5 separate regions of the Homo sapiens genome follow, and regions 1, 2, 4 and 5 are each linked to region 3. The links come from fine-mapping of genetic effects on gene expression. A gene starts in region 3. Each other region holds a variant in brackets. All regions are shown on one strand. Distances are between the middles of the regions.

The links. PIP is the estimated chance that this variant, and not a neighbour inherited with it, causes the effect.
Region 1: its variant is fine-mapped to the expression of LRRN1 in unexposed skin (GTEx, PIP 0.98).
Region 2: its variant is fine-mapped to the expression of LRRN1 in whole blood (TOPMed, PIP above 0.99).
Region 4: its variant is fine-mapped to the expression of LRRN1 in whole blood (TOPMed, PIP above 0.99).
Region 5: its variant is fine-mapped to the expression of LRRN1 in whole blood (INTERVAL, PIP above 0.99).

The regions. Positions count from the first base shown.
Region 1 is chr3:3,634,731-3,639,836 of GRCh38, forward strand. No RefSeq gene overlaps it. Among named protein-coding and RNA genes, the nearest start is that of LRRN1, 160 kb to the right of the region's middle. The variant T/C (reference allele first, on the strand shown) is at 2,286.
Region 2 is chr3:3,981,514-3,986,619 of GRCh38, forward strand. It overlaps the pseudogene PNPT1P1. Among named protein-coding and RNA genes, the nearest start is that of LRRN1, 180 kb to the left of the region's middle. The variant C/T (reference allele first, on the strand shown) is at 2,506.
Region 3 is chr3:3,797,136-3,802,241 of GRCh38, forward strand. It overlaps LRRN1 (leucine rich repeat neuronal 1), which reads left to right and starts at 2,296. Exons shown (of 2, transcript NM_020873.7): 1 at 2,296-2,784. LOC100130207 (a long non-coding RNA gene) reads right to left here and starts at 3,740. Exons shown (of 6, transcript NR_149025.1): 1 at 3,566-3,740. RefSeq lists silencers at 2,197-2,266, 2,277-2,366, 2,507-2,616.
Region 4 is chr3:4,302,164-4,307,269 of GRCh38, forward strand. It overlaps SETMAR (SET and mariner transposase domain methyltransferase), which reads left to right and starts at 1,206. Exons shown (of 3, transcript NM_006515.4): 1 at 1,206-1,363. The coding sequence starts at 1,208. It also overlaps a transcript of SUMF1 not described here. RefSeq lists enhancers at 803-1,545, 1,574-1,643 and a silencer at 1,144-1,483. The variant A/T (reference allele first, on the strand shown) is at 2,414.
Region 5 is chr3:2,906,162-2,911,267 of GRCh38, forward strand. The region is part of intron 12 of CNTN4 (contactin 4); the gene reads left to right. Among named protein-coding and RNA genes, the nearest start is that of CNTN4-AS1, 150 kb to the right of the region's middle. The variant A/G (reference allele first, on the strand shown) is at 2,925.

The DNA of each region.
Region 1 (5,106 bases), 160 kb before region 3:
CACAGGAGGTGCAGTCAGCAGATGGCCTTCCGCTGCCACTGTCTCAGGGTCAGCCTCAGGTGCGCTTGCTTTGTCAGAGTTTTACCCTTCCAGGTTGTAAAGACCGACGACTTTGGCCTGATGGATGACACCCTGGAGGTACTTTTCCAGAGCTCCCTCACAGATAGGTTGACAAGGCTGTGTCAGGCCTGCATCCCAATTTGACTTCTTTTGTCCAATACTACTCCCCTTCCTTTCTACTAACACTGCTCTCTGATAAATATCTTCAGTCCCAAACTCCATCTGGCATCTGCTTCCAGAGAACCCATCCTGAAAGACCAGCATGGATCCAACCACAAAGGCTCTGTGTATGAAGCTGAGATGTGTTCCCTGAGTTCAAGCATTTCAAAATGAGAACCAACTAATGAACTGTCTGTCCTCTGACAAACTCTTCAGAGTCTCTCCAAGTCTGAAATAGATGTCCCATCCTGTTACAAAGTTGAAACATCTAAACTCTGGTGAGAAGATTAGAGAAAAAGAATAGAAACCAACGCCATTGTATTCATTCAACAAACATTTCCTGAATGCCTAGTCAGCATCAGATACTGTCTGATCTGAGAGTACCAGACCTCAAGAGTAAGACATGGCACAGGGCCCTCTCATGGAAGGCTTCCTGAAGGAGATAGCTCCTGAGAAGAGCCCAAGCTTGTTAGAAGGGACATGTGGCTAAATAAACAATGTGAAAATTAAGATCCAACACACAGAATTACAGGATAAGCTCTATATTCATTTCCTAGGGATGACATAAAAAAAGTACCACAAACTGGGTGGCTTTAAACAAGAGAAAGTTACTCTCTCACAATTTAGAAGTCAAAAATCAAGGTGTTGGGAGCCCCTGCTCCCTGTCAAGACTCAGGGAAGTATCTGTCTTTGTCTCTTCCTAGTTTCTGGAGTTACTGGCAATCCTTGGCATTTTTGGCTCTGCCTCCATCATCACAAGGTATTTCCCCCATGTGTCTGTCTGTGTCTCTGTTTTGTCTTATAAGGACACCATTCATATTGGATTAGGGCCCACCCTAATGGAATATGACCTCATCTTGATTACATTTGCAAGGACCCTATTTCCGAATGAGAGCACATGTAGATGTTCCAGGGGTTAGAATCTCAACATATCTTTTTGGTGAGCACAATTCAACTCCCAACAGGCTCCAGCAAGAATGTCACCAGCCTCTACAGGCAGTGATCAAAGAGACTGGAAGCACTAATTTTAGAGCCAGTGGAATACTGGAATTGTGGCTTTCCCTTTACTACTGTGTGTATGTGATGTTGAACCAACTACTTTTCCCTTTTCCTCTAAGCTGAAAGTGTTCTCAGGTATAAAATAGGAACAGTGTCAGTATGTGCTGAGATTATTCTTTCTCCTCTTCTTCCAGACATACTCCTTCCTGAAGTTAGGCATAGTCATTTGACTTTCTGCAGCTAATCCAAGCAGAAATTATGTGTAGCACTCCAGTGTAGAAGTATTGAAGACTTGGCACCCAATTCCCCTTGCTCTCTTCCCCTCCCATGGCTAGTCCTGAAGACATTTGTTGAGATGACAGTATCATCCTCCATTGGCTTTGGTTCCTGAGTAATAATGGTAAGCAGAGACCCCTGACTACCTGCATTGAAAAGACAGTATGAACAATAAATAAATCTTTGTTCCATTAACCATTGAGATTTTAGTATTATTGGCTACTGCAGTATGACCTAACCTATCCTAACTGGAACAGAGTGTTGACCTCACAGGATTGTTACGAGGTTTAACTAAGATAAAGCACATAAATTACTCAGCATGGTGCCTGGAAAATAAGAAATCTCAATAAATACTTTTTTTTATGCCCAAGGGAGCAAATACATTGCAGCATTTACATGGCAAAAATTTTGTGACTCCATTCTCATTCTAGAATATTGAGAAAAAAAGAACTCATATTGAACAGCTGGTGTATTCCATCCACACTGGTAACATTTATTGAAAGACTACTACAATGCCAAGTACTGCTCTAATAACTTTACCTGCAGTAATTTGCTTAATCCTCACAACTACCATAGGAGGTAGGTAGTAGGATTATCTTTTTTCACAGGAAAGGAAATTAAAGCACAGTGAGGTTAAATAACTTGCCCAACATCATAAAGTCAGGAAATGGCAGAGCCCTGGCAACCTGGCTCCAGCCGGAGCACTGCCCCAGGCTCTTGCAGGAACAAGTACAAACAACAGAGCATGTTTGAGCACATTCCAGGACTATCTTGGAAGGGAAAGCAACTTC[T/C]GAGGAAGATGCATCTTGCTCCAAAGATGCCCCAGGGTCAAATTAGCCATCATCCCAGGAGAGTAACAAAATGCTTTCAGGTCTCATCTGCTAAACTTGGCCAAGATGAATACAAAACATTTGCGAGCTAGAGACTTCATTTTGCAGTGCCATCACCAACAATCCAACATATCTGGTTTTAGCTAGACACTTACAAACAAGCAGAGCACGTAGCCTTGAGGCTGAGCACACAGAGAAGCAACAGATGCCGCCCACGGAAGGCCACAGAACCTTGTTCTCCAAGGCTGCAGGAGAGGAGGGATTGAGAATTCCTTGGAACCCAGAAGTGATGAATTTACAACAACCCCTTGAACAATTCCATCTGAATTTATATGGGTTTGGCCTTTGTCCCTGCTCTCCATGAAAAGCCGTAGTATGGCAGGTAATGAAAACACAAAGCCTTTTCTAGAGCGAAGTTTTATTTACTGAAATTACCCCAACACCTTGGAGTCAGAAGACCAGATGTGTATTTTATGTGCTGTGGCTTTCTAGAGAGAAACACTTAGAATGGCCATCTGTATTAGTTTGCTAGGTCTGCCACTACCAAGTACCACAGACTGGGTGGCTTAATCAACAGAAATTTATTTCCTCACAATTCTGGAGGCTGGAAGTCAGAGAGATGGATGTGTCCACAGGGTTGGTTTCTTCCGAGGCCTCTGTCCTCAGCTTACAGATGGTGACCTTCTGGTTGTGTCCTCACAGGGTCTTCTCTCTGTCCCTGTGTCCTAATCTCCTCTTCTTGTAGAGACACCAGTCTTACTGAATTAGTGCCTACCCTAATGACCTCATTTTAATTTGATTACCTTTGTAAAAACCCTATCTTCAAATACAGTCACATTCTGAGGTACTAGGGCTTCGGACTTCAGCATATGAATTTGGGTGGGGCCCAATTCAGCCCCTAACACTGTCCAATACAGGAACTGTAGTTTATAGGAAAAAAAAAAAAGCTCCACAACCTCTTAGGTAATAGAACTAGTTCCAAATATTCTAGATGGGAGATTCTTTTTCAAAATTAGCAGTTAGTTTTTAAAGCTAGTTTTGTTCGGTCAGCTAGCTGTTCTCTTCCATTTATGCAAGGAAAAGGGATATTAGTAGAAAGCCTAATGCCCTTTACGAGGGTGCCTTGTGGCCAAAACCAAAGAAAAGTGGGCCACCAGCCAGCCATACTGAGCATACAGCCATCTTATATGCAACACTACCTCTTATTTCTATCTACATAGCACTTTACAGTTTCAACGATCACTTTCTATCTTTACACCACCCCATGAGGAAATCATAGACTAGTTAATATTCCTTGAACTGATTGGGAAGCTAGGGCTCCGAGAAAGTGACACGTCACTTGTTTAGTAAATGGCAAATCAGAAAATGGCTCTGTCACCCAGGCTGGAGTGCAGCGGCATGATCTCAGCTCACTGCAACCTCCACCTCCCAGGCTCAAGGGATCCTCCCACCTCAGCCTCCAGAGTAGCTGGGACTACAGGTGCACGCCACCATACCGGCTAATTTTTTTTGTATTTTTTGTAGAGTAGAGGTCTCACTATGTTGCCCAGGCTGGTCTCAAGCTCCTGGACTCAAGCTACCTGCCCACCTTGGCCTCCCAAAGTGCTGGGATTACAGGCGTGAATTCTTGATTGAAAATTATTTAGTAGTGGGGTTTATATCATCAACTCAAATATAATATATATTTAAAAGTTTGGCCCCAACTACGTAATCTTAAGTGTCATAGTCTATTTATCTCAGAAAACAAGTTCTACTGTATACCAACGAACCTCTCAAAAAAATCAACAGCTGAGACTACTTTAAAAAGAAGTACAAGAAGAGCTTCAGAGGAAAGGGAGAATAATTTGCCCATGCAAGAATGACTTACTCTGCTGGATATGGAAGGCATATCACAAAATTAGGTACTATACAGTTAATATATGGTAGTAACACAAGAACAGCCAGAGATGAATGGAGTAGGATAGTTGATAATTTTTCTCCAACATTCATAATTGACGAATTCAACAGAATGTATAGAAAAGAGTTATATCTTCGTATTCAGTATATAAAAACAATTGGTAGAAATAATAATCACTTAATATATGAAATTATGTTATTAATATCAAAAAATACCAATTAAAACATCAAAAATACTACTTATAATTATTAAATGGCATATCTCGAGCAGAAATTTGTACAATTATAACCAAGGGAAGCATTCAGAGAAATGGAATCTTGTTGATTAGCTGACTTTGCAATTAACTAACTTTTGGGTTTTGAATACATAAAATAATTCTTTTAACTAAATAATAAATATGGAAAAGAATAAATATAATTCATCATTTAAAAATGTAACTATAACACATACTCTTTATAGACAATTTGAAAATATAAAAACTTATAAAGAATAATATTAAAATGGCCCTAAGTTTTATCTCCAACATATAGCCATTATTGACAGGGTAGGGTGGTTTTTAACTCAATGACTCATTCACATATATAATTGTGGGTCCTATTTTGTTTTCACCTAATGTTATATTTGCAATATTTTCCTATTTTCTAAGCTATTCTTTGAAAACATATTAATAGTTGCAAAGTAGTCAATCATTTATATATAAATTATAGGTTTGTCATTCATCATCAAACAATGAGCTTTCTGATTTTTGTTAAAAATAAATAATACAAGCCCGGCATGGTGGCTCATGCCTGTAATCCCAGCACTTTGGGAGGCTGAGGCGTGCGGATCTCCTGAGGTCAGGAGTCTGAAACCAGCCTGGCCAACATGGCGAAACCCAGTCTGTAC
Region 2 (5,106 bases), 180 kb after region 3:
TTGAATATGGCCTGTTCCAGTTTGTGAACAGTCGTAGGCAAGTAAAGTTGTTGGGCAAAGAGGTGAGCTATAGGATGACTGAGGGTAAATTGTCACTACTGTATATAAAGAAGACAAATGAGATATAGGAAGAGATCTGTTATAATAACATATATGACATATATCTAAGTTTTTCATATATTTCAGAATTATAGAAAAAAAAGTATGTAATCTTTTCTAAGATGTATGGATGACTTACTTTTAATAATATTTCTTGATTTATAATGTAAATAAGATTAAGCGAATATGGGTTACTCTTGAATTTAAAAATTGGCACATGTAAATGAGCATTTTAATACAAATAATTAGAATATATTTATACTGTATACACAGCTACACAACGGAAGATACTACTAAAATTTTGCTCTATAGCACATTACCCTAGAAAACATAGAATTCTAGAATTCTCTTTAAAAAGATCACTGAGAATTATTAGATGATGACTGTGAAATAGGTTCTCCCAGTACAATACTACTTCTGTCATTCAAAGTTCTGACAACAGTTGTAGCTGAAGACTGAAGCACTTTATGAGAAAGCCTCATTCTTCCATCAGCTGGGTCACATCCAAAGTATTTCACCTGAATTTCTTGGCCAACTTCTAATCCTAGGGCAGTAGGATGTTTAATATTTCATTGATCAAGTTGTGTGTTATAAAGCAGTACCAAAATCATATTTGGATATAATTTTACCATTACACCAGTATCTCTGCTTTCAGTTATTGTGGCAGTACACACTGCTCCAAATTCTAATTGCTGCTCCTGATCATCCTTGCGGATTTCAGCAATGAAGTCTCTTGCCTCATGCATAGCACCGGGTGTTGGTGCAAATATAGAAAACGTTTCTTCATCCACCTGACTAATAGTTACAACTGTTTCAGCCTGAAGTTTTTTAAGTTATATCCACCTGGTCCAACAAATTTTTCTCATTTTGATAATGGAACCTGAACAGTTTCTACAACAGGTCCATTTTCTTTTCTAGATGCTTGAGGTTTTGAAATAGCTTTGTTCATGATCTGTAAAATCTCCTTTTTGCCACTGAAGCTTGTTGAATAGCCTCCATTACAATTTTCATTGTTATTCCAGGTAATTTAATATCTGCCTGTAATGCAGTTATTCCTTTATTAGTGCCAGCTATTTTGAAGTCCATGTCACCATTGTAAGCTTCAATTCCCAGAATATCTGTTAGCAAATGATAATCTTCTATTTCACCCTTCTCAAGATCGGTTTTGGTGGCCAATCCCATTGCTACACCTGTGACAGCAGATTAAATTGGAAGCCCTGAATCCATTAATGCTAAACTTCCACCACATGCAGATGCCATAGAAGATGACCCATTTGACTCTAGGACTTCAGATGTAACTCTTATGGCAAAAGGAAAATCTTTGGGAATAACAGGATACAAAGCTTTCTCAGCAAGAGCATCAGGCCCAAGTTCTCTTCTATTTATACCGGTGACTTTGACAATTTCATTAGTTGCATAAGGAGGAAACTCATAGTGCAGCATGAAATTTTTATCTTTTATCCCATTTATAGTTGTTATAACTCGATCCAACTTAATACTGGATTCTAATGAATCAAATGTAACAGCACAAAGCAGCTGTGTTTGTCCTCTTTGAAATAATTCTGATCCATGAAGGGTTTTAAACATATCTACCTCACAACTTATATTCCGAAGTAAAGTCAAATCCCGACCATCGCATCTTTTGTATTCATTCAAAATAATACTTCTAAAAACTTTCTTTGCAACAGTATTGAAGGATTCTATTATCTCATATAGATCGACCTCTGGAAATATTTCTTTTAGTTGTTCCTCTGTATCTAATCTTATTTTGTTAACAGCTTCATCTCTGGAAATTTTATCATGTTCATAATCTGTAAAAACTGCATAGAGTCTCTCCATAGTGAGTTTATGAGCATGTTTCACAATCTCTTGTGAAGGGGTAAATAACTTCTGAGGTGTCCTCTTGGTAACACCAATTTCTTTTACCAGCTGCTGGATGCCCTGAATTATTTGCTGGGTATATTTCACTCCCACTTTGATAGCGTGGCAAAAGTCCTGCTGTAAAATGTTCTCTGCAGAGGCTTCCAACATGACAGTCTGACTTTTAGGTGCTCCAGCAACCACTACATTTAAAGTACTAGAAGACATTTCTTTTCTTGTTGGGTTAACAACACATTCTCCATCAGTCATTCCTATTCATACTGTCCCAACAGGTCCATTCCAAAGAATATCTGATAATGAGAGGGCTACAGAGGTTGCCATTAATTGCTAGGACATCAAGTTCATTAATACCATCTACTGCTAACAGATTACACAGAACCTGTATATCACAGAAGTAGCCAGCTGGAAAGATAGGTCTAACTGAACAATCTACTATTCAACGTGTAAGAATTTCTTTATCAGAAGTACTAATCTCTCTTCTCAGAGGGTTTGTGGGAATTCTACCTACTGCAGCAGCCTTTTGTC[C/T]GTAGTCAACCACCAAAGGCATAAACTGGGAAGGGGAAGGTTTTGTTTTACTGACGGCTGTGGCCATTACCGCAGTGTCACCTGACTGTATTACAGCAGAGCCATTTGCAAATCTGGCCAGCTTTCCAGAGGATATTTCTAATTTCCTGTTGCCCAAGTCCATGGCCACAGCTTGAGACCCTGTGCTACTCAATAGTGCTCGCACCTGCAACTGGATGAGTGCCCGATCCCACCCTGGCAGACAGAAGGGACCATCACTCAGCGGCCGGAGCCACAGGCTCAGTGAGGTCTTAGCTTCCTCCTGTTATCCTCTGTAGCAATGCCTTAGTGTTTCCTTCACAGCACTTATTACAATTTGTAGTCATTTACTGATGTGATTATTGGTTATTATCCCTCATGAGTCTCACAGCTAAATGACAGCAGGGATCAAGTCTGTCTTCTTCCCTGTGTCACAGCTGTATCTGGCACCAAGCACATACAAGGCATTTGATAAGTATTCTTTAACATAATGAAAATGAAGTACATTTATAACACTATTCTTTCTACCCAAAGAGAACAAAAAAATTATGGACTTCCATTCTGTGTCAATATATTCAACAGGATAGAAGAAATAACACAACTGAAGGTTGCAAAATACTGAAAGTTATCAACGCTTATTCTCTAGAGATCCTTGTTAAACAATGTCCCATCCATCAAGGGTGAATTAGATTTGTCCCTGGCTTGAGGACAGAATAAGATGACTTCACCCGACTCCTTATAAACTTATAATTTTATGAAAAATCCATGAGCTCTCATCTTTCCAGCACTCTGATAACGAGGTAATTACCCTTTTAATGAAAAAGGAAGCCTTTTTATATCTATCCCCATTGAATTATGGACCTCAAAATTGAAATGAAGTCTAATAGACATCAAGCACAACTACCTGCCAGTTCCTAACAAGGATGAGGAAAAAAAAATAGTGATATCTGGGGAGCCAACGGGCAGTATGACAGGGTGTCCTTCCTGCCTTCTCTGATGACACTTTGCTATCAACACCAGTTCTTCCTTTTGTGCCTTACTCAGTTTGTAAGCCAGTCTGCAACAGTAGAAAAGTCATTAGTCACCCTTCCCTATCTGTTCCATGGGCTTTGAAATGAAGCCCTGGTTCAGGTTCCCATTTAGGTGTGACTTTCTCCATTCCTACTATGTTGACTGTAATCAAAGGGCTGGGCTCAGTCCTGACAACACGTTCAGATCCCACACTGCACTAGCCCTGCTCTAGAATCTCAATCTATTTTCCCAGTGTCCTAAGACCTGTCAAAGCCCCTGCCACCAGCCTCTTCCACTACTGACTGAGCTCTTCCATCAAACGACTGATTAATGGAACCACAACACCGACACCCCACATGAATTGCACCCGGAGCCCACAATCCATACTCCTTCCCCATGCTCCTTCAGTTTATCGATGCTGTTTAATTATCAGTAGTGGCTCGGATTAAGCCCTAAACATCTAGCTACCCTGTTCCACAGCCAAGACTGTTACTCTCACTCCTCACTCCTAGGTCTTGCCTAACTCCCCCCATTTCAGGTATTTTATAGCTGAGTCTCTACAAGTTATCACTCACAGCTAAATTCACACTTTTACTTGGTCTCTACATTTTAATCCTTGGTGATCTCTTTTTATGCAATTGCCAGTTTAGAGGCATAATCTTGTAAACCTTTACCTTCTGGACAGTAGCATCGGAAAGTTCATTACTTTCAGTTACGATACAACAGCGAGTGACAAATGCAGCTTTGGAAAGCGGAAAACTTCTTTCTCCTTGAGAGTCTCTGCACAACTTTCCACATTTGGAACCCAAGGACATTTCCTTTCTCTCTCTGCTAACATGGAGTACAGAAAGGTTACATTAGCTAATAAAAGCCCTCTGCTGACAAAAGATGCGTTTGAAAAGTCACTCGAAAAGGGAGCTCTCTCGATAGCTTTATTAAAATAAAATGCCATATCTTTGTGAAGTTAAAAGTCTCTGGATTGTGGTTAAAAGTCTGGTCTGCTCCTTATACAATGGAAAGTCTTTCAAAAGCCACGTGTTTCTTAAGCTGGCCTCACCATGCATAACAGCTAGAATATAAATCTAGACTCTCGCCGCCCATCTATCTTTTCTTTTCTGTGTCATGTAGAGGTTCCTATGTGAAGGAAAGATCTCCAGAATAAGATGAGAGATAGCTTTTATAAGAACACCAAATGATAGAAATTATGGAAATCATGATATTGAAATAATTTCTTCCAAGTTAAAACATCAGGAACATTTTTGCTTATCAGATAGGCAAGAATACTTAAATTTGAATGTTGGTCAGCATTCAACAAGAAGGCAGTGCCTAGACCCTTGGCTTATGAATTGGGGGCAATTGCAGCTTCCTTCATTCCTCTGAAGGGTTGAGAACTTATGCAAAGCCATGGGTGCAGTGCTGTCCGACGCCCTGCAGAGGTGATGCCAAGAGTAAGGCTAAATATGCCGTTTTTGAGAGGGAGCCCAGAAAGCCAGACTTCAGCAGACACCAAAGAGTCTATTGAACTACTCTGATGGGAGGATATGCAAGAGCAATGCTGAATAGTAACACCCC
Region 3 (5,106 bases):
TAATTACACCACATTTCAGACTCTTTCATAATTGTCATGCTCATTTTTCCTCTTCTGTCCACAGCAAGCCCCATCCTCTCACCCAAATTCCTTCCCCCATCCCTGACACACATTTCTTCCTAATGATAATGCTCTTCTCTCTGTCTGGAACCAAATGCATGCAGTGGTCAAGTAGAAATGGGAAAAGCTGCCTTTCTCACTCTTGCCTTGGGGAAGAGGGAAATTAGTTTAAATAAATGATATGCTAATTTGAAAAGAAATGAATCGAACAGTGGAGAGACAGAGTCCATTTCCTCCACTGGAGCAGCTAGTGCCTTTGAGATATTCTGTCACATGCGGAATCATTATCCCACCTGTCTGAATTGATGTCTTGTTTTAGTCTTCAATACCTGCCTAATAATGCCTAGAGCTTACATCTGTCGTTGAATGCTTACTATATACTAAGCACTGTCCTAAGCATTTTACATGTTTACTCCCACTTAACCATCACAATCCTTTGGGATAAGTACTGATATTAACCCTACTTTAGAGCCAAGGAAATTAAGCCTTAAAGAGATAAAGTGACTTGCCATTAGGGACACAGCTCATAAATTGCAGGGCTGGGACCTAAGCAGTGTTGGCCTGGTTTCAAAATTCACACCTTGGTCCCTGACTCACACCATTCTCATGAAGTCTCTTCCAAAACCTGGAGGCTGTTCTAGATCTGGCCTCCCAAGAGCAACTCTCACCATCATTAATTGCTCCGACTGCTCCTCCAAGACCTACCTCTGTAAAGCTCCTCCTTGAAGGGCACAACCTCATCTCTCTTCCACTCCCAGGAAGGCAGGCTGGAAACCTAATAGAGACTCCCTAAGAAACCTGCATTCTATCTTTCCCTGACCATTCAATTTCCGTACTTCCACCAGAGCCCAACTTCTATCAGACAAACTCCATGCTATCTGCATGCTAACTCCATGGATAATCTGCATGAAAAGGGGGGAAAGAGACAAAATCATGTTACAAAACTTGGGCAAGGGTCTAGACTCAACTTGCTTTGAAAGATCTTAAATCTTCCCATTCATTTGTAGACAGCAGTGGGCCTTTTTCTTCCTCTGCTCTGCACGACCTTCTAGCCCAAGTGCTAGTATCACCTTTTCCTAAAGACTTTTAAGACAAACTGTGACCATTTATGTCTACATGACACAGTTTCAGGATAACAAAGTGTGAAGACACACAAAGACGTCAAACATTTATCAGAGACCTAAGCGAAACGCCAATAAATGTTACAGGGATCAAGAATATGGTTACTGACATTGAATGTATCCTGTGGCTTTGAAGAATCCAAAGGATGATTCTCGAATAATGTATCCTTCCAAATTCTCCAGAAGTTCTAAGTTTAGACATCATAATGAAATGTCACCACGTTCCTCTGCCAGAAGTTGTTCAGTACTGAGGGGCTAATGATGCTTTCGCTTAAAGCCGATTCCCCCAATAAAGGGTGCCAAGGCTTTTCTGAAGCCCTGCTTCCGGCTGGCGACTTTGAAGCTGAGACGCAGGTTCACGCGCAGTTTCCGAAGACCTATTCCGTCCCCACCCTCCTCCCCTTCCTCGGAGACACCTCCACTTAACACTGCCTTCTCAGTCCCTCGCCGCCTGTTTAAACACAACTTCCACCCCTCACAAATCAGAAAGCTGTAATTTCAAAGTTTCAGAAACGTTTTCGGAAAGCCTCCTCCAATGGGAAGCGACTTCGCCGCTGAGTTAAGCGTCCGAATCCTCCTTCCCGCGGCAGGGACACCGGCCCGGGCCAGGTCTGCGGAGGACGCCCCCGGGCGCGCACACACAGCCCGAGGACGCGCCCTGTATTTTAAGACGCAGGGTCGGATTTCACCCCGAAACTTGGCTCCCACAGCCCCAGGCCGAACTGTGTCTGGTTCTCAGCCCCCGAGCCCGAGTTCTACGCCGCAAAGAGATGGGGCCCCATTGTGCCTAGCTGGCCTCCTAGCACGGACGTGTATTTTCTTTTGGTCTGTCTTTTGCTAAAAACCGGCAGTGCGCTTCGCCTCCCTGCCCAGCCGCAGCCTGCCGTCCCCTAGACAAAAAGCGGCGACCGCGGCCCGGCCACCCGAGCCCCGCCGCGCTGCGCCTTTGTTGGGCGGTCCACAGATGGTGCCCAGCACGGGGCCGCGCCGAGGGCGGGGGCGGGAGGCCGCGAAGAGGGTCGGGCGGGAGGGGAGGAGACGGCGGAGCAGCCAATCCGCGCGCGGCCCATCAGCTGACCGCCTTTGCTTACACCAGGTGCACGCCGGCTGCGGGGAGCACAAAGCGGGGCGCACCGCGGGCGCCGGCAACGAGCCGGTGAACGAGGCGAGGCCCGTGCGCCCGCGGCTGCAAGCGCCCGCCTGGCGGGGAGAGGGGCCGACGGCGTCAGCCCGGGCGGCGGCATCCCTAGGCGCCTGGGGCGCCTTCCTCCGGACCTGGCCGCTCGCTGCCCCGCCCTCTGCACCCCACTTCTCCGACCCTCCTTCCCAGTCCTGCCTCCCCCTGCCCTGGCCTCTGAGAGCCGACTGAGCCCAGCCCCGTGCAGCAGCGGTTGCCTGTGTCGCCGCCTAGTCTCCGGTCTTGGTGCTCTCCCGGGGGTGCCCCAAGGAGCCAGTGCGCGCTGCGGGCTGGGAAGGAGGCGCCGCTCAGCTAGTCCTCCTCCTCCTCCTCGTCTTTCTCCTCCTCCTGCTGCTGCTGCCGCCGCCGCCGCCGTGGGTGCCGGGTCCGCGCGCACCCCAACACCCCCACCAGCTGGGCCTCGGGGTAAGTCCCTGGCCGGCCGCGCCGCGGCAGGAGGTGTGGGAGGCAGCGAGGGGAAGTCGAGGCAAACTTGGTGGCGTGGGAGACCCTACGGGGTCTGGGGAACCTCAGGGTAAGATCGCGGGCCTGAGGGGGACGAGGGGGCGCGGCTCACGGAGCTGGGGAAAATGACGAAGTCGGGAAACGAGAATATAGTGCCCCGTTTCCCCCCGTCCCCCTTGCCAAAAAAAAAAAAAAAAAGGTGTGGGAGAGCGATAGTTGGGAAGGCAGGCCAGATAGAAACAGGCAAAAAAAGGCAGTGACCGGAGCCGAGCCTGCTGGATTTCAGGGGCCGACCAGGGGAGGGAGGTGCCCGGGGACGGGGAGGGAGGAGGGCTGCCGGGATGTGAACCGGGGAAGGCAGCTGGGGCTGGAGAGCAGCGCGGAAAGGGGGCCCAGGGAGCTGGAAAGAGGGCCAAGAGGAGGGCAAGGAAGGTGGCGGGCGACGGGGAGAGGAAAGAAAAAGGGTGTCTTGGCGGTGGCCTTGGTAAGAGAAAGGGGCAAGGGGTATAATTGACAAGGCACTGAAAGTATTGAAGTCAGAGCCTTGGGAAGGATCTACCGAACTCTCGGCGGTCCACGCGGGGACAGACCTCAGCCCGTGAGCCTTGAGCTCCACGCGGGGACAGACCTCAGCCCGTGAGCCTTGAGCTCCACGCGGGGACAGACCTCAGCCCGTGAGCCTTGAGCTCCACGCGGGGACAGACCTCAGCCCGTGAGCCTTGAGCTCCACGCGGGGACAGACCTCAGCCCGTGAGCCTTGAGCTCCACGCGGGGACAGACCTCAGCCCGTGAGCCTTGAGCCCAGAAGGAGTGGCAGCCTCAGGACGTTTGCCAGGTGGCCTGGAATGTGAGGGAAGCCTCAGCCCCGCCAGGAACAGAGCTGGCGCTGAGTTCCCGGCTCGGCCCGGGTCAGAAGCGAGGAAAGTTTGCCGGCGAGTGTCCTTTGTGCTGCGTGGAGAGGGGTGTGGGCGGCCGCCGACTCGGCGCTTCCCCGCCGCCCGCCCAGGGAGTCCCTGCCTGGCAAGCTGGGGCTCGGGGAAAAGTCCAGCAGCGAGAGGGCCGCGTGTCCCGGGACGGTTCCAGGGGAGCCCGCGCGGAAACGCGGACCAGGCGCTTCGGCCCGGATGCCGGATCCAGGAGAAGGGGACCTCGCTTGCCGTGTCCACCGCCGCGGCCCCAGCGCCAAGAACAGAGCCTGGCCGTGAGTGAACGACTGGCCGGGGTACAAATGGTTCTGAAGCACTTGAAGCTCACAGGCAAAGGCTAAGAGTCTAAATCCCATCCCGCCGTAAGTATTTTCATTCCCAAACCTAAATCGTAAAGGAAAAGTGGAATTCTAATTGGGTGAGGGAACAGGTGCTGCCGACTCTGGCTTTTGCGTGGAGGATTTTCTAAAAGACAACATGTTTTGTTTTGTCTTGCCATGACAATCTAAATCATGTTAGTGGAATAGGCTCATTATTTCATTTTTAAAAGCTAGGGCTGGAGGAGTGGAAAGTTCAGGAAGGCACTTTGATCAGTATAAATCTAGAGTAAAAGTGTTATTGGCTCCAGGGCCATATGTGTCCCGAAGTCTCTGATTTGCATGCAAATGTGAGCGGATCCTGGCAGATGTCTGGCCTCATCCATTCACATGAAGGAATTTGAAAAGACAAGGAGTCTTCAGTTAACAATAGACCTTAAGAAAAGAGAATAAAGACGCAGTGTGAGTTTTTCTGTTTGGGAATTCCATGGTTTGCTGACACCTTTATTCAGGAGCCAAATTCTTTAAGTGCTATTGTATTGAAAGCTCAAAGTGCTGCTTGCTCTTTACCTGGCTGTATATATTCGTGCAATATTCAAGCTGGATATTCTAAGCTAGTTAGGAAAAGGTTTGTGTGAAGCAGACAGTAACTTTAACCCACTTCTGGCGGCTTGAAGTGATTTCTGAATTGACCCCTCAACTTTTCGAGTTTTCTTTTAATAATTTGACTCTTGCTCAAATTTGGTCCTCATCTTCAGAGCTATTCATTATAGTAGAAGATCGTTGTCGTTGACCGACATGAAGATTTCCTGAGAATGTCCACTGTCTAGCTGAGAATGTCCACTGTCTAGCCAAAGTCATTTCGGTTCTTAAGGCACCAAACTGTAGAACTGCAGGTGATGCAACTGTCCCAACCCTAGTTACCCGAGTGGTTTTCAGGTCACATAACAGTGAACGGGGAGGTAGTCGTGCAGTAGACTCTGGAGCAAGGGCCTTTCTGCCGTGTCTAACATTAGCTGCGTGACCACACTGCACTGTTC
Region 4 (5,106 bases), 510 kb after region 3:
TGCGCCCCCAACATAGCCTCAGGCAGTCCTGATGACATGTGCCCAAGGTGGTTGGGATACAGCTTACTCTCACACATTTTAGGGAGACATAATACATCAATCAATACATGTAAGATTGGTTGGATCTGGAAAGGCAGACAACGAGAAGCGGGTGAGGGGTGGCTTCCAGGTCATAGGTAGATTTAAAGATTTTCTGATTGGCAACTGGTTATTATCTAAAGACCTAAAATCAATAGAAACGAATGTCTGGGTTGCAATAAGAGGTTGTGGATACCAAATTTGATCGTGGAGATGAAGCCTCCAAGAGGTAAATTTCAGAGAACAGATTGTAAATGTTTCTTATCAGACTTAAGGTGTGTGTTGATGTTGATGCTGGCTGGCTTTTCCTGAATTCCAAAAGGAAGAAGGGCATAATGAGGCATGTTGGACCCCCCTTCCCATCATGGCCTGAACCACTTTCTCAGGTTAACCTTGGCAGAGAGGAGGGGTCCCTTCAGATGGTTTGGAGGATTGGAATTTTATTTTTGGTTTACAGTTTCAAGGAGAAGCAGGACAATCATGTCAGAGAGCTTCAGTGAGGTTGAAAATGCTCCACCGGATTCAGCAGTCTTGAGGCTATCAGAATCCTTTGGCAGGGCAGGGGTTTGGAGGGGTGAGGGTAGAGGGATGGAGAGGAGGGAAAAGGACAGGCAAAGGGGCACGGATACCTCCATCAGGGAGTGAGCATGCCCCCACACAAATTCCTTAAGGCACCCTGTGAGGCTATCGCCTTGGCACAAACCCTATCACATGTCAGTCAACTTCCCGGCAAGCCGCAGACCTTTAGAAACCTTGGTGTGCGTTTCCCCGCTCGGTTTAGAACGCACCCCTGCCTCCACTCCACAAACGTGCAGTGAGCCCTCAAAAACCTGGACAAATGACCTCACCTCGAAAGCCCCCTCTCTGATGCTCCCAGGAAAAACTAAAGCACCTCACTTTGTTTCGTCCGTACCTTACATGGTTTTGTAATTATCTGTGGTGCCTCTGGCTGAAATCAAAACGGGAGCCAGACCCAAAAAGTCAAGGAAGGGAAGCGCCTTCCAGGCCACTCCTGAGAAGAAACGAACTACAATTCCCATGAGGCGGTGGGGCCACGGGACCACAAGTCCCAGCATCCACCGCGCGGCCCAGGACTGTCAGGGTAGTGGGCGTTGCGTGAGGCGGGTAAATGTTCGCGGAAGCGGCAAAGACGACACGGCCTTGTGGGATGGCGGAGTTTAAGGAGAAGCCTGAGGCCCCGACTGAGCAGCTGGATGTCGCGTGCGGCCAGGAAAACTTGCCGGTGGGCGCGTGGCCCCCGGGGGCCGCGCCGGCGCCCTTCCAGGTAGGGGCGGGGCCAGGCGGCGCGGGAGGCGGGCGCGCGGCTCCCCCACGTGGTCTCCTCAAGCCGCCTCGCTGGGACGGCCTCCCAGTCGCGACCTTTTGTCTTCTCTTACAGCGCACCCGTTGGTGCGCGGGAATAGGTGTGCATGCCCCGGCCTGGGCCTTTTTCTGTTGACCCACGGCATCACCTTAGCAAGGGTGTTGTCCTTTTCAGTCCATTCCCTGAAGCGCAGAACCGGAGGCCTTGTGAGAACCTGGCTTTTTGTCCAGTCCTGTCCTCAGAACTCAAGGAGGCATCACGGGGGGAGTCATTTACCTCCCTGGTCTCAGGTGTCTCTCACAGGTAGGATAAGCCGTGGGGCCTATTAATGGATCGCAGCCGGTGTCGTGCATAAAAACAGCCCCTCGAGTCAGCCTTAGCTGTGGTCTCCCTCACGCTGTGGGCTCTTGGGCGAGTGTAAATTAGCTGTGGCTCAGCCTTAGAGTCTTCCAGCGTACAGTGGAACAGTACCTCTCTTCCGGAGTGCTTTGAAAATGGCAAGGAAAATACACTTTCCGGTTTGCTGTAAGAACTCAGTAAATGTTTGCTTCTATTAACTACCTCAAAGCCCTTTCTACTCTCCTTTTTCTTTTTGAGACTGAGTCTCGCTCTGTCGCCCAGGCTGGAGTGCACTGGCGCGATCTCGGCCCACCGCAACCTCCACCTCCCGGGTTCAAGCGATTCTCCTGCCTCAGCCTCCCGAGTAGCTGGGATTACAGGCATGGGCCACCACGCCCGGCTAATTTTTGTATTTTTAGTAGAGACAGGGTTTCTCCATGTTGGTCAGGCTGGTCTCGAACTCCCAACCTCAGGTGATCCGCCCGCCTCGGCCTCCCAAAATGCTGGGATTACAGGCATGAGCCACGCTCCCAGCCTCTACTGACTTTCTTATCCCTCCGACCTTGGCCTGAGCGTTACCCAAGGAATAAGGAATGACCAAAGATTTTGAAGTGGAAAGAGCGCTGGACGTGGAAGTTGGAGAGTATGGTTCGGAGCTTAGACATCTTAGCT[A/T]CTTCCCAGAGCCTGAGTTTCTTCATCTGCAAAATGAAAATAATAATTTAAAAATGCATAGCCCCTTTAACATCCATTATCAACAATGAACCCTATCTGCCCTTTCTTTTTCCTAGGGGTTTTTGTGAGGATCAGATAAGATAAGAGATTCAATAGCAGCTTTCAAAGATGTCAAGGAAAAGAATCAAACTCTAAAATATTTGAAGAGATTTATTCTGAGCCAAATATGAGTGACCATGGCCTGTGACACAGCCCTCAGGAGATGCTGAGAACATGTGTCCCAGGTGGTTAGGGCACAGCCTGGTTTTATACATGTTTGGGAGAGAGGAGACGTCAATCAAATACATTTAACATGTACATGGGTTTGGTTCAGAAGGCGGGGCAACTCAAAGTGGTGGGGGGGGCTTCCAGACTATAGGTAGATTTTAATTTTTCTGGTTAACAATTTTTCTGGTTAACAATTGGTTGAGTTTGTCTGAAGACCTGGGATCAATAGAAATGTTTAGGTTAAGATAAAGGGTTTTTTTTTGAGACGGAGCTTGACTCCATCACCCAGGCTAGAGTGTGGTGGTGCGATCAGCTCACTGCAACCTCCGCCTCCCAGGTTCAAGCGATTCTTCCACCTCAGCTTCCCGAGTAGCTGGAATTACAGGCGCCTACAACCACGCCCAGCTGATTTTTGTATTTTTAGTAGAGACAGGGTTTTACCATGTTGCCCAGGCTGGTCTCAAACTCCTGACCTCAAGTGATCCACCCACCTGGGCCTCCCAAAGTGCTGGGATTACAGACGTGAGCCACCGCACCCGGCCATGTAGAGACCCAAGTTTTAATTGTGGGGAGGAGACTCCCAGCTGACTTCAGAGGGAGCAGGTTGTAAAATGTTTCTTATCTAACTTAAAAAGGTGCCTCGGTCTTAGTTGATTATCTCCTTGTTGTGGAAAGAAAGAAAAAGAGGGGGAAAGGGGATTCTCTATAGAATGTGGATTTTTCCCACAAGAGACAACCCTCCAGGGCAATTTCAAGATATGGCAAGGAAATATATTTGGGGTTAAAATATTTTGATTTCTTCCCTTATTTGTTATTTGATGTTATGCCAGAGTCAGGTAGAAAGCAGACCATGCTATATAGGGTTAAAATTAAAACTCCTCTGATGAGACTTTATGGTTTGTAAGGCATGACTCCCCAGGTGCCTTGGGTAGGAATTTGGGCAAGATAAGAAAAAATCAGAGTTTAGTCCTCAAAGAGTAGAATAAGATATTAATGTCAGAAATTATTATTGTTCCCCAGACTACCTTTGGCAATTTATAGTTAATAATACAGTTAGCTGGCCCAATATTAAACAGTGGTCCCTGAAAACTTAGGACTAAGCATTGCTGAGTTCCTGGTCAAAAACACTGATTTAAAAAACCACTGTTCTAGTCCATTCTTAATTCAACAAATATTTATTGAGAGCTAAATATATGCAAGGTGGTGGGTTGGGCTGCAAAGAATACAACAAACAGAAAAACGCACTCTACCCTCAAGGTGTTTACAACTGTCACGATTAGCTTCAATATTCCTGCCGTGCGTGTGTGTGTGCGTTTGAGACTATTCTATAAATCTGTTTCCAATCTTGAGTCATATTTTTCTTTGCCATATCCAAGAACAATCTGTAAAACTATGTGCCCGACGTATTTTTTTAATTAACTCACTTTAAGCGTTAAATTATTTAAAAATAAATTATATAAGTATCTCCCTTAGAATCATTGTAATCATTAATGTCCATAAAATCATGAGGTTTTCTATTTCTCAAAGTGTATATTAAAATAAATACGTCTATTTTTAAAAGGGGAGAAAGGAGTGACAAGAGGAAGCTTTGTGATTGATTGTTACATCTACAGTTGGTGGGCATAAATGAAAATTGGGAGATTAAAACCCAGTCCCACAGTGTTCTAACTATCTCTGTATATGCACAGCTCCCAATAAAGTTAGAGTTACAAAAATAAGACAGGATGCCTTCCTAAGAGAGCTTATTGTCTTTCTTACCAAGAAGATCAAACATGCTTGAAACATTTAAGTGACAAGCCTAAAAGTGCATTCAACTCGTTTTCTTCCATGTATTCATGGAACACAAAACCAGTCTTATAAAAGGTCAAAACAGCTTGCTTGCTCCAAACCCTGCCTTCACAGGCATATGCACACATAAGAATTAAGGCATGAAAAACTTTCAAGATAAAAATAACTTTGTGTCTGTTTTGCCTTTGGCTACTGTGTGAAAAGGCAAAAAGAAATTCAAATGTTCATATTGGAAACAAGCATATCATAATGTCATCAGTGTTGAAAGCCAAGTAGAAAATAAACTAATTGATTTTATTGAGCTAACAGTTGGATCTAACCATTTTTCAGGTCTCTGAAACCAGCTTCAAACATTATTTTTAGATCTCAACAGGCCTTGACAAGAATTATCTGGCTCACAGTCTTCTAATAGCTGCTTGGAGGAAAAACAAACTTATGAGGCTAGAGGCCAAGTACAAAGATTCTTGTAGCTGGGGTTTCAACACAACCAAAAAAGGAATGAAGATTTTCACAACACTTCTTTATAATTCAGAGGCCCAGGTTTTAAGCCTAGAATGTTACAGTATCATACTTCAGTTTCTGGGTCTTCAGTACGGAATGTGATTCAGAAAAGTCAAACTTCTCGTTAACAAGTATCA
Region 5 (5,106 bases), 890 kb before region 3:
TGGTTGTCAGGGTCGGGGGAATCGGCGGGGGAGGGTTGGGAAGATGTCGTTCAAAGAATACAACACTTCAGTTAGATGGGACAAATACATTCAAGCACTCTATTGTATAACACGATGATTATAGTTAATAACAAGATATCGTACTCTCAAAAAATGCTGAGGGAGCGGATGTTAAGTGTTTCACCACAAAAATGATAATTATATAAGGTAATTTATGTTAACTAGCTGGATTTAATCATTCTACAACGTATATAAATACTTCAAAACATGTTGTATGTAATAGATACAATTGTGTCTGTCAATCTAAAAAGTAAAATAATAAAAAAAATAAAAATTTTGATTCAAATACATAAAGCATATATCGGAAAATTTAAACTTGAAAAAGAAAGATGGTGGCCGGGCACGGTGGCTCACAGCTGTAATCCCAGCACTTTGGGAGGCCGAGGCAGGCGGATCACCTGAGGTTGGGAGATCGAGCCCAGCCTAGCCAAAATGGTGAAACCCCATATCTACTAAAAATATATATATATAAATTAGCCGAGCATGGTGGCGCATGCCTGTAATCCCAGCTACTCGGGAGGCTGAGGCAGGAGAATCACTTAGACCCGGGAGACAGAGGTTGCAGTGAGCCAAGATCGTGTCATTGCACTCCGGCCTGGGCAACAAGAGTGAAACTCCTTCTCAAAAAAAAAAAAAAAGAAAAAGAGAAAAGAAAAAGAAAGATGGAGAAGTCATTAAGGACCAATTTTGGAGATTCTTGAATGACAAGCTTGCAAGTTCCCTATTTAATATCCCATTTTCCCTTCCAAAAATTCCCAGTAATATATTTCAGGTAAATTGAAGGGCAGTTAAAGATTGAGTGTGTAAACCCGTAGAGTCTCTCTTAAGTGAATAAGGGAGAAGACATCTGCCTATTTAAAGATACATAGAAATTAATATTGGTTAACTTGGGTAAGACATAATATGATTGTTTTCCACAAGTCACTTTGTTCCTTATATAGCAGGAATAGTTTGGCTCTTTTGGATCAAATAACTAAATTGTCATTACCTATGCTAGAATCATGAGGATGCTGAATTGAACAAAGAAACAAAATGGAAACAAGATAATCTCTTGTTAAGATTATCTCTTGGCCGGGTGTAGTGGCTCACGCCTGTAATCCCAGCACTTTGGGAAGTCAAGGTGGGTGGATCACCTGAGGTCAGGAGTTCCAGAACAGCCTGGCCACCATGGCAAAACCCCATCTCTACTAAAAATACAAAAATCAGCTGGACATGGTGGTGCATGCTTGTCGTCCCAGCTATCTGGGAGGCTGAGGCAGGAGAATCACTTGAACCCGGGAGGCAAAGGTTGCAGTCAGCTAAGATTGCACCACTGCACTCCAGCCTGGGTGACAGAGTGAGACTGTCTCAAAAAAAAAAAAAAATTATCTCTTGATAATCTGTATAAGAAAGAAAAAATATATATGTTGGTTCCACCTATTGATTAAATATCAGGAACCTCCAATGCTATAGAGGAGATTCCTTTTAATGTTGGGTGATAGCCCTACGGTCATGAATAAGAGATGGTTAGGAAGCATATATTTAATAGGTTTTTCCCTTGGTTTTATTTTATGTGTTCTGTCTTGGTATTTAATGTGTATGTAACATGTCTATTTAATGGATTTAAACTGCTAAATAATTAATCTGTGTGCTGGGTGATTTACTCACTGGATGGGCAAACGCCATAGAGAGACTTTTATCTTGAGGTCAGTATATTGGTAGGCCTGGTTATGAGTACATCAAATGGAAGTGTCCTTGTCTGTGACTGAACTATGACAATTGGCAGTTTATTTTTTTCCCAAGGCAACTCCTCCTAGATCTTTTCTGCTGTCTTAGCCTGAGTCATGGATGAGATTCACTTGTGGGATATATCCCTGTGGACATCCCTGAGGTGCTGTACAACTCCCTGGGTGATAACCATCATTCCACTCCTCTCCCCCACTCATGAAGGTGTATTACAATTAGAGTAAATAGAGTCTTGTAATCATGGGGAAACTGAATCTTCTATACGTAACTTAAAAAGTAAAGATAACTAAGTTAGGTATTTTGTTGGTGAAAAAATAACTTTTCTAAAGTAATAGTTCTACCCATGTTTAGTATTTGTGTCCACTCAGATGATCATATTGGCGATGGGGACTGCTGATTAAATTGCCAAACTTGAAATCATTGGGTAAATATAGAGGATAGCTAAGGTCTCCAAAGCAAGTCTGAGGCAAGTATTCAGGTATCTGCAATTCACTGAAAGAGTGTTCTCCAGGAAAAACCTGTAAGGAAAAGCAGAATAAGGAAGAAGGAGGAACCAAACAAGGATGGGGTCTTAGGTAAAGTCTAGCCTAAGTCTAATCCAGAAGGGAGATTTCTGGAACATAAACTGTACCTCAGACCCATTTCCACCTTGAGATAATGAGGCTAGCTTTTTAAAAAATCTCCATGTTAATCACTTCCTAAGCTACCTCTTAAGTGGGGTTCCAGAAGTGGTGGGGGTCAAAAATCTTTGATTTTGCTTATATATGTGAGAATATTGTGAAAAAAGTTTTTTGATTTTACAGTGGGAGGAGCCATCCCTAAGGGTGAGTGGGTATCTGCCCAGTGGTCTTTTGAATATGACTTGACTTTTCCAGGACTGTATAATGGAGGAGAAGTAGCTTCTATCCTGAGGAAATTATGTCTAATGGTTCAGTATCCCGGGGGTTCTCCTGGCCTGTGTGGTGGAACACATCTGACCCTGGCAGGACACTCAAATACCATCAAGTAACTGATGGCCCAATTAAAGTGAGGTGCAACCTTGAGCGATTATCTGGTTAATTTGGCATCTACCCAGGTGATTGGCTCCCAAATTAGAAAAACATTAAGGCTAAACTAAAAGTTATTTCATAGGGACTTTC[A/G]CAAGTGCTCATCTGCATCTGATTTCTCAACTGCCTCGTTGAGCCAGGTTACAAAATAATCAGATGTGCTGAGTGTGATCAGCATCGAATGAGAGGACACATGCCTTTCTTACCCAACTGCAGTCATCCAGGCAAGAGCTTTACTTAAGTTGTCATGAAGAGGGGAGCTGTGCACTTGGCTCTCAAAAGCAAATTTGGTGTCTTTATCAAGTTATTGATCATATACGTACCAGTAGTAGGAGGATGTCATTACTCATCTTACTGTGAAAACTGACAGAATTACACGTGAAAGCCTTTGCAAACCTAAAGGTGTTTATAACAATATAAGAAGGTTTGGGCTTTTTTTTTTTTCTCTTAGTATCCATACCAAACACTTAGAGATAGCCATGAAATCACCAGTAAATCCCAGTTCTGTGCTTCTCAATTTTTGCTGCAGATTACAATCATCTGGGGAACTCTTTACTATCCTGATGGCATACCATACTCGTTATCAACTAATTCAGTCTCTGATCCTAGGACCCAGGCATTTTTCCTTAAAGCTCCCCAGGTGTGATTCCGAAGAACAACAGAATTTGAGAACTATTGCTTTAATTGATCAGGTTTAAAAAGCCATTGAATTTTCCTAAAATATTGATTATCAGGCTTTATCGTGCATCACAGTAATCTAGAGGACATGTTAATACACAGATTGCTGAACTCTACCCTGAGAATTTCTGATATAGTAGCTCTAGAGTGGGGCCTGGGAATTTATATTTCTAACAAGTGATGTTGATGCTGATGCTGCTTATCCAAGACCACCGTTTGAGAACCACTATCCTAAAATAGGAAATCTGTCCTACACAGAGGGCTTTTGTTGTTGTTTTTAAAAATTGAACATAGTCTCCCTACCAAAACATCTGATTTTGGATCAAAAAGCACTCTGAATCCGAAGTACCCCTGTATGAGAGAAAGAGCAGGCATCAGAGATTCCAACCATGGCTGAAGGCCCCATTTCAACAAGAGAGTGAATAGGAATAAAGCACACAGAATGTCTTGACAGACTACCATGTGAGGCTTGAGCTAAAGTGCTGCATGGCATGACTCTGGTAGTTAAAGCCAACTGAGGGGAGACATTGAAAGCTGATAAATATTATGATAAATATTATGATCATCCCTTACATCAATTCCCCCAAAGAAATGCAGTGAGTCAGAGTTTAAAATATTACTCTAGAATGCAGCCTAAGGCATCACTGAGCATTAATACTTTATATACAATCCTATAACCAAAATATCTGAATCTTCTGTAAAACTGCTGTGAAGAGATGATCCATCTTGAAGTCCTTAGTCCTTTTCATAAAAATATTTCCAATAAATTTCTCATAAAATGTAGAACTTCTCTCTTAAAAGAAGAAAAGTTTGCATCTTCTAGTAAAGAGGCAAAGTTTTTCATCAGTCAGTAAGAAATATGTTATTTTTCTCTTTGCCCAGTCTGGGATTAATTTAACTCTATTGTATTAATTCTAGTGAGATTGTTTTCTACCCTTCCCCTGTTTGAATTGAGTCATATTGTAAATGTATTTACTACTTTATGTCTTTTACCATTATCTACCCCAAGTTCTTTGAATTTGTGAATGAATAAATAAATGAAGTAACTATTTTTCCCCCTCCACCACCTTCTGGCAAAATTGATTGCATTTGGGGAGCCTAATCTAAGGAGTATTAATTAGACTGACATTCAAGATTTGGTAGTGGGGGGTGATTCATCAAGATAGTCAAAAGGGAAGCCCCAGACCCTTTTTCCCCAATGGACCAGTTGCCATTGAAAGAAATAAAACCAGTTAAGAGATTTCTGCACTCCAGTCAAGTGTAAAGCCAATAGCATTAAAGCACTGTAGAAAAATTTATGGCACTCGCTTGCTGGAGCACCTCCCACTCCCCACAGCGTAGCACAGAGCTATCAGTAGAAAACTTCCAATTCCTAATTTCTTGCTGGGGAGGGAAAGAAAAGAGTGGAAGGTATATCCAGTGTTTTTACTTTTGAGGGGGAAGTACTACCTAAGGGAGTGGTTTCCGTTTTGCCTGAATCTAAGTGATGACAGAAACTGGGCTATGTGGGAGGCCCCCTGAGAACAAAGTCTTATCAACATGGCTTGGTCTGGTATCAGGCTGTACCACAGACACTAGGGGAGGTCCAGTACCAACA